Regions from separate parts of the Homo sapiens genome. Here region 2 is linked to region 1. Evidence: fine-mapped expression QTL. A gene starts in region 1. The other region holds a variant in brackets. All regions are shown on one strand. Distances are between the middles of the regions. Region 1 holds the start of NID2 (nidogen 2). Region 2 overlaps NID2 (nidogen 2).

Region 1 (5,372 bases):
AAAGACAGAGGCACAAAATATAACAAAACATTTACTTGAGCCAAAGTGAGGACAGTTGCCCGGAAGACTTAGACCCAAGTAACCCTGGATATGAGCTTCATGCCGCCTTTATTACAAGCAGGTTTTTTACAGGCAGAAAAGGGGGACAGGGAGTAGGCCGATATGAAATTGTTTGTAAGGAATTCACATTGGTTTACAGAAACAACATTGCTCACTGATTGGCTATGCACTGTTAAGCTATAGGCTATGAGTGATAGTGTCCAGTGTGACATTATTAGGTTAATGTATAGTTACTTGTGGCAATAGCAAGCAGTTTCAAGGATGAATACATAGCTCAAAAGGGGGCAGTAGTGTTACTGGAAAGAGTTCCTGATCCAGACCCTAAGAGAGGGCTCCTGGATCTGGTGCAAGAAAGAATTTGGAGTGAGTCTACAAAGTAAAGTGAAAGTGACTTTATTAGATAAGTAAAGAAACAAAAGAATAGGCAGAGCAGTGGCGTCGGCTGCTTGACTGATTATACTTATGGTTATTTATTGATTATAAGCTAAATGGGGTGGATTATTAATGAGATTTTTGCAAAAGATGTGGGGAATTCTTTTCTCTTCCCAGATTCCTGAAGGAGGAGGGTTTTGATTCAAGCCTTAAAGATGAGAAGGTGTTGGCTTGAAATTGACCAAGAAATTGACCTTTTACTGTAGGTAAAAGGACTTACCTGTGAGGATGTTGTATTGGAGAATTAAAGTCTCAGCTTCAGGTGAGACTTCAGGGTGGCTGTGACGGGAGATAAAGTTAGAGACATAAACTAGAGCTACTTTCCAAAGGGCCTTGCTGCAATATAATTTAGTGGTTAGGAGTGGAGGTTTAGAGATCAGACAGAATTGGGTTCAAATCTCAGCTTTGGTACTTACCAGCCATGTGATAATAACTGATTTTTTTAAAATCCCATCTGAGCTTTAGTTTCCTTAACACAACGACTACCTGTTATCAGTTGTCTATTGCTGCATAACAAATTATCCCAAAATGTAATAGCTTAAAGCAACACACAGCTTCTTCAGCTTCTGAAGCTGAAGCTGTAATTCTCAGTTTTGGTTGGTCTGGAATCCCACCAAAACTATAATTATAATCTAACCAAAACTATAATTCTCAGTTTTGGTGGGTCTGGAATCTGCACCTGGCTTAGCTGGGTCCTCTGCTTCAGGGTCTCTTGCAAGGCTGCAATCAAATGTCAGCCAGCGCTGAGATACCATCTCAAGACCCAACTGGGGAAGGATCCGTTTCCAAGCTCACTGACATGGTTGTTGGCAGAATTCAGTTCCTTGCTGACTGTTGGCCAGAGGCTGCCCTCCTCAGTTCCTTGCTATGTGGGCCTCCCCGACATAACAGCTTGCTTCATCAAAATCAATGAGAGGGAAAGTCAACTAACAAGGAAGAAGCCACAATCTTATTTAGCCTTCTTCTCATCACTCTTGCCACACTATGTTTGTTAGAAATCACAAGGCCAGTCCACACTCCCAGGGCAGAGATTATACAGGGGAATGAACACCAGGAAATGGGGATCATTGGAGACCATCTCAGTGTTTGCTTGCCCCAAAGCTCATAGCTTAGTACCACTAAATAAATGTTAGTTATTATTATTATGCTGAATCGAGAGATAAAGTAAAACTACAGAGGGCCAGTAGTTTTATATCAGGGAGTAACTTCAGATGATGTTGGGCAAGTCAAGTCATCTGTCTTTGAACTTTCATTTCATCCTCAGTAAAATAAAAATACCTGACCCCAGAAAGAATGAGAAAATATATGTGCAAGCATAAATATATTTTTGGAACATCAAATATACAACTCTCCACTCTGAGGAAGCAAACTGCTTTGGGCCAGTTTTCCATTTTGTGTCTGCTCTATGAGTCTCACAGTCTGATGTCTTCACGTTTTTTAGCGTTTGGTCCAGTGGGCCCATAGGAATAAACACCTACAAAGAGCAGTGTGTCTCTGGAGAGTCCTTTAAGGCATTTCCAAGGATTTGCTTTTTGGTTTTTTTCTTTCTTTCGTTCTTTTTAAATATCTTTGCTTTTAAGGACCTCATGGGGGGCCTGGGAGAGAAAACAGACTGTCTGGGAAATTTTAAGCTCTTGATAATAAAAATGGTAATAAAATCTCCTCCAGCTCCTGAGGCTTCGCAGAGGGGATGTTTATGGTGGATGGGGTTCCCCTTCTCCTGCGCAGCTGGTTTCGAGGTTGTGCGGTTTCCAGTCCTGCGGAGCAGCTCAGGTTACCGCCTCCGTGGCCGCGGGGGAGGGCATCTCCGACGGCCGCAGCAATGGGCAAGAGATCAGGGTCTTCCCATCCCCGCGACTCGCCCCTTTCTGCCTGGTAACCAAGCGGGATGCCTCATCCTACTCCCCAAACGGAGCGGATCACACACAGTAGTATTTCATGGTCTTTCCTGCTGCGGTTTTCCCGGGGGAAGGTACTTCCAGAGGGTGGCCAAGTCTTCCCTAGCGGCCGGCCTTCGGGAGGGGGACAGAACTTAGGAGTCAGCCCTCTGCCTTCGTACAAAGGCTCGCTTCTCCTCAGGGCGTCTCTGGGTGGAGCGAAGCGGCCGAGGGGACCACGACAATGTCCCTTTGCTTTTCGGACCGATGGCCAGGCCTCCAGAGCCAGGAGCGCCCGGGACCCCAGGGCAGGGAGCAAAGCTCATACCGCAACCCCGCCACCCGCCCGCGCCCTGCCAGCCTGTTGGGGCCACAGCGCGCAGGCCAGCAGCCGCACTCGCCGCTGCGGGGTTCCCTTTGCGCTGAGCTCATCTCCTGCAACGCCGCTGCCCCAAACCTTGCGGGCCATTTGGTCCCGGGGGTGGGGCTCCTTGGGGGCCGCGGGGCAGCCCGGATGAGAGGATGACCCGGGAGCTCCCTGGGGGCGGAGTGGAAGGGGCAGCTCCAGGCAGCCCTGGCCAGGAGCTTTTACCCCGCCAGCCCCGCTGCTCCAGCGGCCGCTGCCTTAGAAAAGTTAACGAGAACCAGATGTGGTGGCCACTGCCGAACTTTCTCAGAGCCGGTGATTGGTCCCCAGCCGAGGGCCTCAGCCAATTAGCTTGCTGGGTGGGCCTGGAGTCCCGCCCCGCCCAGGCGCCCGCGGAGATCCAGGTTCGAGGCTGGCGCGGCGCGGAGAGTGGGCTGGAGGCCGGGGCGGGACGCGTTGTGCAGCGGGTAAGCGCACGGCCGAGCGAGCATGGAGGGGGACCGGGTGGCCGGGCGGCCGGTGCTGTCGTCGTTACCAGTGCTACTGCTGCTGCCGTTGCTAATGTTGCGGGCCGCGGCGCTGCACCCAGACGAGCTCTTCCCACACGGGGAGTCGTGGGGGGACCAGCTCCTGCAGGAAGGCGACGACGAAAGCTCAGCCGTGGTGAAGCTGGCGAATCCCCTGCACTTCTACGAAGCCCGATTCAGCAACCTCTACGTAAGTTCAGCCCCCTCCTGGCACTTTTCCCGCAGCTTCTTCCCTGGGGTCGGTCTCACGGAAACCCTGCCTCCAGAGGGGAGGAAACAGACCCCACTCCTGGAGCCCCCCAGCACCCTTGCGGTGGTACCCGGCCAGAGAGCGATGCCGCTGCCTGCCCCGCTGCTGTAGGGGAGCAAGAATGACCTGGAGGGGAGAGCAAGAATTGTTCGCAGCCACGTACGCGTCCCAGGCAGAAAAGGTGGCGTTGCTAGGGCGGCCAGCGGGCTTTGCAGTTAGGACCGCGAGAAGGCTGTGCCCGTCTGCGGAGCTGGGGTGTTCCCTCTTCAGACCTGGAGGCTTCCTCTCCGAGGACATGGGGCTCCGGGGTTGTGAGGGGAGTGAGAAGATAGGTGAACGAGTTTTAGGGCCCCTGGACCTACTGCAGCGCGGAGCTGGGACAGTCGCAAAAGTTGCGCTTGTTTCCCTGAATCCAGACTCCCTGGCCAGTGGGGAAGGAGAGAGAGGCTTTTTGCCTAAGTCAGTTCCCTTCCCTCCCTGCGCGAAAGGGTAGCGTCCTTGGGCTTGAGCGACTGTCACCTTTTTGTCCCTCTCCTCTCCCAGGTGGGCACCAACGGCATCATCTCCACTCAGGACTTCCCCAGGGAAACGCAGTATGTGGACTATGATTTCCCCACCGACTTCCCGGCCATCGCCCCTTTTCTGGCGGACATCGACACGAGCCACGGCAGAGGCCGAGTCCTGTACCGAGAGGACACCTCCCCCGCAGTGCTGGGCCTGGCCGCCCGCTATGTGCGCGCTGGCTTCCCGCGCTCTGCGCGCTTTACCCCCACCCACGCCTTCCTGGCCACCTGGGAGCAGGTAGGCGCTTACGAGGAGGTCAAGCGCGGGGCGCTGCCCTCGGGAGAGGTAAGTGACCAGGGATATTTGACTGCTGAGGAAATTGAAGGATGGGCTTAAATTCTGGGGCAGCGACCCAGGGACTGGCTCGGAGTTGTTTCTGAGCCTACTCTTGCGCTGAACCTGACCTTGGAGGCAGCAGGGCTGGAGTGGCTTGGGAGTGAGGAAAGACGTTGTCTCTAGGCATCTTCTGAGGCCCTGGCAGGTGGTCACTCCCTTGAGGAAAAAAATGCTTAGCGGATATGAGAGCGGGAGTGCAGATGTGGGAGCCCCTTTGAACATAAGGCAATTTACTGTTTGGTTGCTTATTTTTAGAACCATCTCTAAGTATACAAGTATTTCTAATTATATGTTCATTGAAGGGGAAAAAATCAGAAAATACAGATAATTTTAAAAAAGAAAACAACCACTCATTTTCCCACCACTGATAAACATTTTTCTGCGTACATTTTCAGAGTTTTTTCTTCTGCATATCTTTATTGCTGTCTATTAACAATGATGAGTTTACACTGCACATACTGTTTTATAACTTGCTTTTTTCACAGAATAGTGTATTGTAAATATGTTTCAATGTCAATAAATGTATTTCTACATCATTTATAATGATGCATACTACTGTATCCTGCTATTATCCTGTATAATAGTGGGTGTACCACAGTATGCTCAACCAGTGTTGGGCCATTAAGGCTTTTTCTGGTTTTTCATTATTATAAATAATAGCGTGAATCACTTTTTAAAAAGCTAAATCTTTGCACATGTTCTTAGTTGACATTCCAGGAAGTGCAATTGGTAGGTCAGAGAGGATGCACTTTTGATAAAGTTCTTGATAACTTCTGCCTAATTGCCTTCCAGGTACCAGTTTACAAGTTTCTTAGTTTATAGGAGTCTGCCGTCAATGTGCTTTACAGTCTCTACCTGCGGAAAGTAAAAAATTCCAGGCTCCTGGTCTTTAGTCTTGTCATCAACATTTGAAGTCCTCCAAATGGATATGAGTGGGGCCAGCGTGCTTGGTAAATGGC
Region 2 (5,372 bases), 26 kb after region 1:
GGTTGAGTCCTAGAGCTTGGCGCTTTCTGCAGCCCCTCATTCCTTGAGCTCTGGGAGAAAGTCCTGATGGCCCTTAAGCCATGAGCACACTGGTGAGTGTGTGAGTCCCTCCTGTAGCTGCTTCCTTACACTTAGTTGTGAATTTCTGAGCTGGAGAAACCTGAGATTTTGACACATCCAAGTTACATTCATTTCCTTTTACTCTAAATGTTTTTTTCCCTTTCTTAAACTAATAGACAGTGATACAGTTTTCTTCACAGCCATCTATTTTACCATGATCCATCCTGGGTTTTTTTTTTTTTTTTTTCTGCCTTGAGTTTTATATCACTTTTCTGTTTAAGTTAAGCTTGTCACTTTCTTGTTTAAATAAAGTTGAGTCATGCCTAATTTTCTATTTTTATCAAACTGGAATTTCTTAGCCAAGTCATCAAGGCCCTATACTAAATCTTGAGTCATAACTTCATTCCTACTATGTTCTAATCAGATTTTCCACTTGAACCTACACTGTCTGTCCTGCCAACCCTCAGCTTGCTGCTTTCCCAAGGATCTGCAGGCAGCACTCCAGTACTGTTCAAAAGCTAATGCCGCTGCTGCTACTCTCATTTCTTACCTGTGCTGTTTTTCAACATGCTGTAATAGTCATCTCGATAATCTTCCCTGCTTGCTTCTACCATTAAACCCAGTTTATAAAGTATGACTCGAATTATACTTGAAGTCTGTGCTGATTAACCCCAGACATGTGGTGACCCCTAATCTAGTGCTCATGATCTCCGTACTTGGATCCCATTGAAGGGGTCGTGGAGAGTAGCAGTTAAGATTCTCCAGCTAGATGTCCTAGGTTCGGTTCCCACCTTTGCCACTCACTGCCTATGCGACTTCAGGTGCTTTAGTCTACTGTGCCTCAGCTTTATCTGCAAACGGGTTAAAAAATTGTCCCTGGCCAGAGTGGTGGCTCATACCTGTAATCCCAGCATTTTGGGAGGCCTAGGTGGGAAGATCACTTGAGCCCAGGAGTTCGAGACCGAGACCAACCTGGGCAACGCAGGGAGACCCCTCCCCCCAACCCACCCTACCAAAAAATAAAGTAGGCAGGTGTGATGCATGCTTGTGGCTGCGGCTACTCAAAAGGCTGAAATAGGAGGATCACTTGAGCCTGGGAAGTCGAGCTTTCAGTGAGCCGAGATGGCACCACTGCTCTCCAGCTTGGGTGACAGAGCAAAACCCTGTCTCAACAACAGCAACAAAAAAAAGTCCCTGCTACCTAGGGTTGTTGTGCAAATTAAGAGTTGTTGGCCGGGCGGGGTGGCTCACGCCTGTTATCCCAGCACTTTGGGAGGCCGAGGCAGGTGGATCACGAGGTCAGGAGATCAGGACCATCCTGGCTAACATGGTGAAACCCTGTCTCTACTAAAAAATACAAAAAATTAGTCAGGCGTGGTGGTGGGTGCCTGTAGTCCCAGCTACTCAGGAGGCTGAGGCAAGAGAATGGCGTGAACCTGGGAGGTGGAGCTTGCAGTGAGCTGTGATCGTGCCACTGCACTCCAGCCTGGGCGACAGAGCGAGACTCCGTTTCAAAAAAAAAAAAAAAAAAAAAGGTTGTTAAATGTAAAGCTTGTATATGTTAAGCGCGATTGAAGTGTTAACTTTGTTATATTTTTATTTGCTGATGGAGGTCTTTATCTTGGTGACATTGTACCTATAATGCTATGTCTCATTAGCTCCTTTACTTTCTGTTCTCCCTGGGAATACTGGGTAAAGATTGATCTTTGGATTTCTTCCTCCCCTCCTGTCTCCTCGTTTCCAGATAGACCTGGAACACAACTACCACTTGGTTTTTCCTAAGAGTAGGGTGGGTGTCCTCCTTCATGCCAGCATCCGTGTCTCACACTAGAATTCCATGCCATCCCTGCTCAACAGCATGCTCCTGGAGTCTCCAGCCAACTCCACCTCCTGGGGATGTGGAGGCAGAGGTGTGTGCAGCCGCTTGGCCTCCTGGTGGCCATGCTTGGGATTGGCATATTTCCTAGTGCCCCGGAGAAAGCACCCTCCTGTCCATCCACAACCCCCGCCACACCCTACCCCCTTGGCTATTTCCTTTATGAACTATGGCATTTGCTCCAGTTTCCCCATTTCTTTGCAGCACAGATGGCCCTCTTCTTTTAATGGGCAGAATAAGTAGGAAATGGAAGAAACAGCTGCCAGAGCACTGAATTTATCCTAGTCCTCCATAATTTCTTGGAAGATCTGCGAGTGGGGCCCAAGCTGTCTGCTACTGCGTGGAAATCATGCTTGTACCATACCCATCATAGTTAAACCCTGCCAAGGGCATAGGGCATTTTAATAGCTTGAATCCCTGTTGTTTTGCCCTCCTCTGTCCCCTTCTCCCCATGCCTTTTCTTTGAGGTAGGTGCGTGTGTTCTTTAAGACCCTTCCCTCAAAACAATCTTGGTAGCGAGACCAGCTATTATCTTTTTTAAGTTCAGTGTTCCCTAAAAGAAGGATGGTTAGACATAAGACATTTGTTAGCTTCTCTATTATGTCTTCCTCTCAGGATGTGTTTAGGTTGAACCATATAAAAGTGCTGATATTTAGCCCTTTTTGACCCACAAAAATAGTGGTTTCATGAAGTTCAACCTAACATGTACTTACTGGTTTGCTTTCATTTTACTGCACTCAAACCCACGGGTGCAGTCTCATCTTAGTTCACCAACTCTGCAATGGGACCCAGCCGGGAGCAGTAAGCAATTCTTCTTGCCAGCAGACAAAGCAGATTAATTCCCTTGGGTTGAA[T/C]GTTATGCCGGTCTCTTAAACATCAAAAACTGTTTGTTATGATCTAAACTGCTTCTATGGAGCAGATGTTGTGTCCCCGATGCAGCAGTGACATTGGAATCATTTAGTCCTTTTAAGGCAAGTTTGTTTTATTTTTCAGTCTTCACGTATAATGCTGCCAACAAGGAAACCTGTGAACACAACCACAGACAATGCTCCCGGCATGCCTTCTGCACGGACTATGCCACTGGCTTCTGCTGCCACTGCCAATCCAAGTTTTATGGAAATGGGAAGCACTGTCTGCCTGAAGGTAATTGACTGGGGCCAGGAACTCCTGTGTGTCTATTCCTGCTGCTTACCTGTTTCCAGCTACCACTGTGAGCTCTGCTTTATGGACCAAACATCTCCACTACTTAAATCAGAGTGCTATCAACTTGCAGGTGCTCAATAAATGTGTGAGGAATGAACTGGTTTGGGCTGATTCCCAATTTGAGGATTATCCAGAAATGCTTCCTTCTGCCAGCTCATTAGAGCCAAAGTGTAGTGGAGTAGAAGGAGGAGGGGAGAAAACAGACTGGAGGCAGGACTGTTTCATAGATGGATAATTGGTTGGTTAGGAAATCATTAAAGTGACTTGCTAAAGAGTGAGTTTTGGAAGTTGTCAGTGGAATAATTATACCTGGGTACACCCATCTCTAGCCAGGATGACGTCCAAGCCTAACTGGATTTGCTGTCTTTTAGGGGCACCTCACCGAGTGAATGGGAAAGTGAGTGGCCACCTCCACGTGGGCCATACACCCGTGCACTTCACTGATGTGGACCTGCATGCGTATATCGTGGGCAATGATGGCAGAGCCTACACGGCCATCAGCCACATCCCACAGCCAGCAGCCCAGGCCCTCCTCCCCCTCACACCAATTGGAGGCCTGTTTGGCTGGCTCTTTGCTTTAGAAAAACCTGGCTCTGAGAACGGCTTCAGCCTCGCAGGTGAGTAGGGCCTCTGAGAAGGCCGGTAGTCAGCATTGCTTTGGCAGTGGTGCTCCTTGGGGCACTGTCTTTAGGCCTTTACGCAGTGACAGAGGAATCACTTGTTTAATGTACTAGAGCCACATGTGTGTAGTTTTCTGGCCACAGGTTGTTGGGAATGGTTTGACCTCACATCACTGATTTTTGAAAGGCAGTGATTTCGTCTAAATGTTCTCCCAGCTGTTCTGAGAAACAGGATGATTCCATTCAGAACATTTGTGTCCTCTTACCCCAATTTGTTGCAGCATATTTGTCAGGCTTTTTAAATTATGCACAGATCTGTCAAATGCAAAAATGGTACTTGGGGCACCTGGGGATGATTTTACTTCATGGGGAAGGGGTGCTCTTCTCCTCCCAGCTCCACAACCTATAATAGTATAGGCCGGTGCACCCCAGACTTGAACCTGCACACACATCACTTGGAGGTCTTGTCAAAATGTAAATTCTGGTTCAGCAGGCCTGGGGTGGGGTCCGTGATTTTGCTTTTCTACCAAGCTAGGAGGTGAGGTACCAGTGTTGCTGGAAAGGCCACCCGTTGACAACAAGGATTTAGAAGATACTTTTTGGATTCTCACCTTCCAACCTGAAAACTTGTTTGCTAGAGGTTTTATCTTTATTGCATTAAAAATAGTTTTGTGAGAAGTTCTTTCTCCATCTTTAACTGCAGAGCTCGGTAGCTGTTAATAGGTTCTTGCTTTAATCAAAATTTGAATAAAGCCCTTGGGTCAAAAGTAGATAAAAAATGGCACACCTGGATAAATTTGTATTTCAGATAAACAATTTTCTAGTATAAGTATTACCCACATATTTCATGAGACATACTTATCTGAAATTCAAACAAAACCCTGAATGTCTTAGGTGGTAGTTTATTTGTTTTTGTTTTTTTGTTGTTAGGTTTATTTGTTTGTTTGTTTTTTGCTAAGTCTAGCAACCTTAGAGAAAAGTCAAGGACGTTCCCAAGAGTATTTCTCACAGAATACAAGCTTGTTCAAAGAGAAGCTGGGTGAGGTAAGGCAGGATGAAACCATATTCTTCAATGGAAAAGTTTGGGAACTTATGGAATCAACAGCTGATAGTGCTTACTCTCAGATATCAGATAATCTCCTTAGGCACGATCTCCAACAGCAGTAGAAATTGGGAGCGGGCAGTATATACTGGTAACTGTTTAAGCAAGACCTCTTTTCATCCCTGTGCTGAATGTTTTTCATCTCCAGGTGCTGCCTTTACCCATGACATGGAAGTTACATTCTACCCGGGAGAGGAGACGGTTCGTATCACTCAAACTGCTGAGGGACTTGACCCAGAGAACTACCTGAGCATTAAGACCAACATTCAAGGCCAGGTGCCTTACGTCTCAGCAAATTTCACAGCCCACATCTCTCCCTACAAGGAGCTGTACCACTACTCCGACTCCAGTATGTATAACCAGTCTTCACATCTGTAAAATGGGGATTATGCCCATCTCACAAGATAGATACAAGGCTTAAATGACTTACATGGCATGTCCTTAGAACAGTGCATGGAACATAAAATGAGCTCTATTATGTTATTACTCTTATTGTTACCATGAAATATAT

Evidence for each region. PIP is the estimated chance that this variant, and not a neighbour inherited with it, causes the effect. A credible set is the group of variants that fine-mapping cannot tell apart.
Region 2: its variant is the best candidate, but not a certain one, in a credible set for the expression of NID2 in whole blood (TOPMed, PIP 0.67).

Annotation. Positions count from the first base shown.
Region 1 is chr14:52,066,848-52,072,219 of GRCh38, reverse strand. NID2 (nidogen 2) reads left to right here and starts at 3,161. Exons shown (of 22, transcript NM_007361.4): 1 at 3,161-3,453; 2 at 4,057-4,362. The coding sequence starts at 3,226. It overlaps LOC105378180 (a long non-coding RNA gene), which reads right to left and starts at 2,984. Exons shown (of 2, transcript XR_943864.4): 1 at 713-2,984.
Region 2 is chr14:52,040,489-52,045,860 of GRCh38, reverse strand. It overlaps NID2 (nidogen 2), which reads left to right. Exons shown (of 22, transcript NM_007361.4): 6 at 2,930-3,079; 7 at 3,511-3,756; 8 at 5,010-5,210. Among named protein-coding and RNA genes, the nearest start is that of NID2, 26 kb to the left of the region's middle. The variant T/C (reference allele first, on the strand shown) is at 2,791.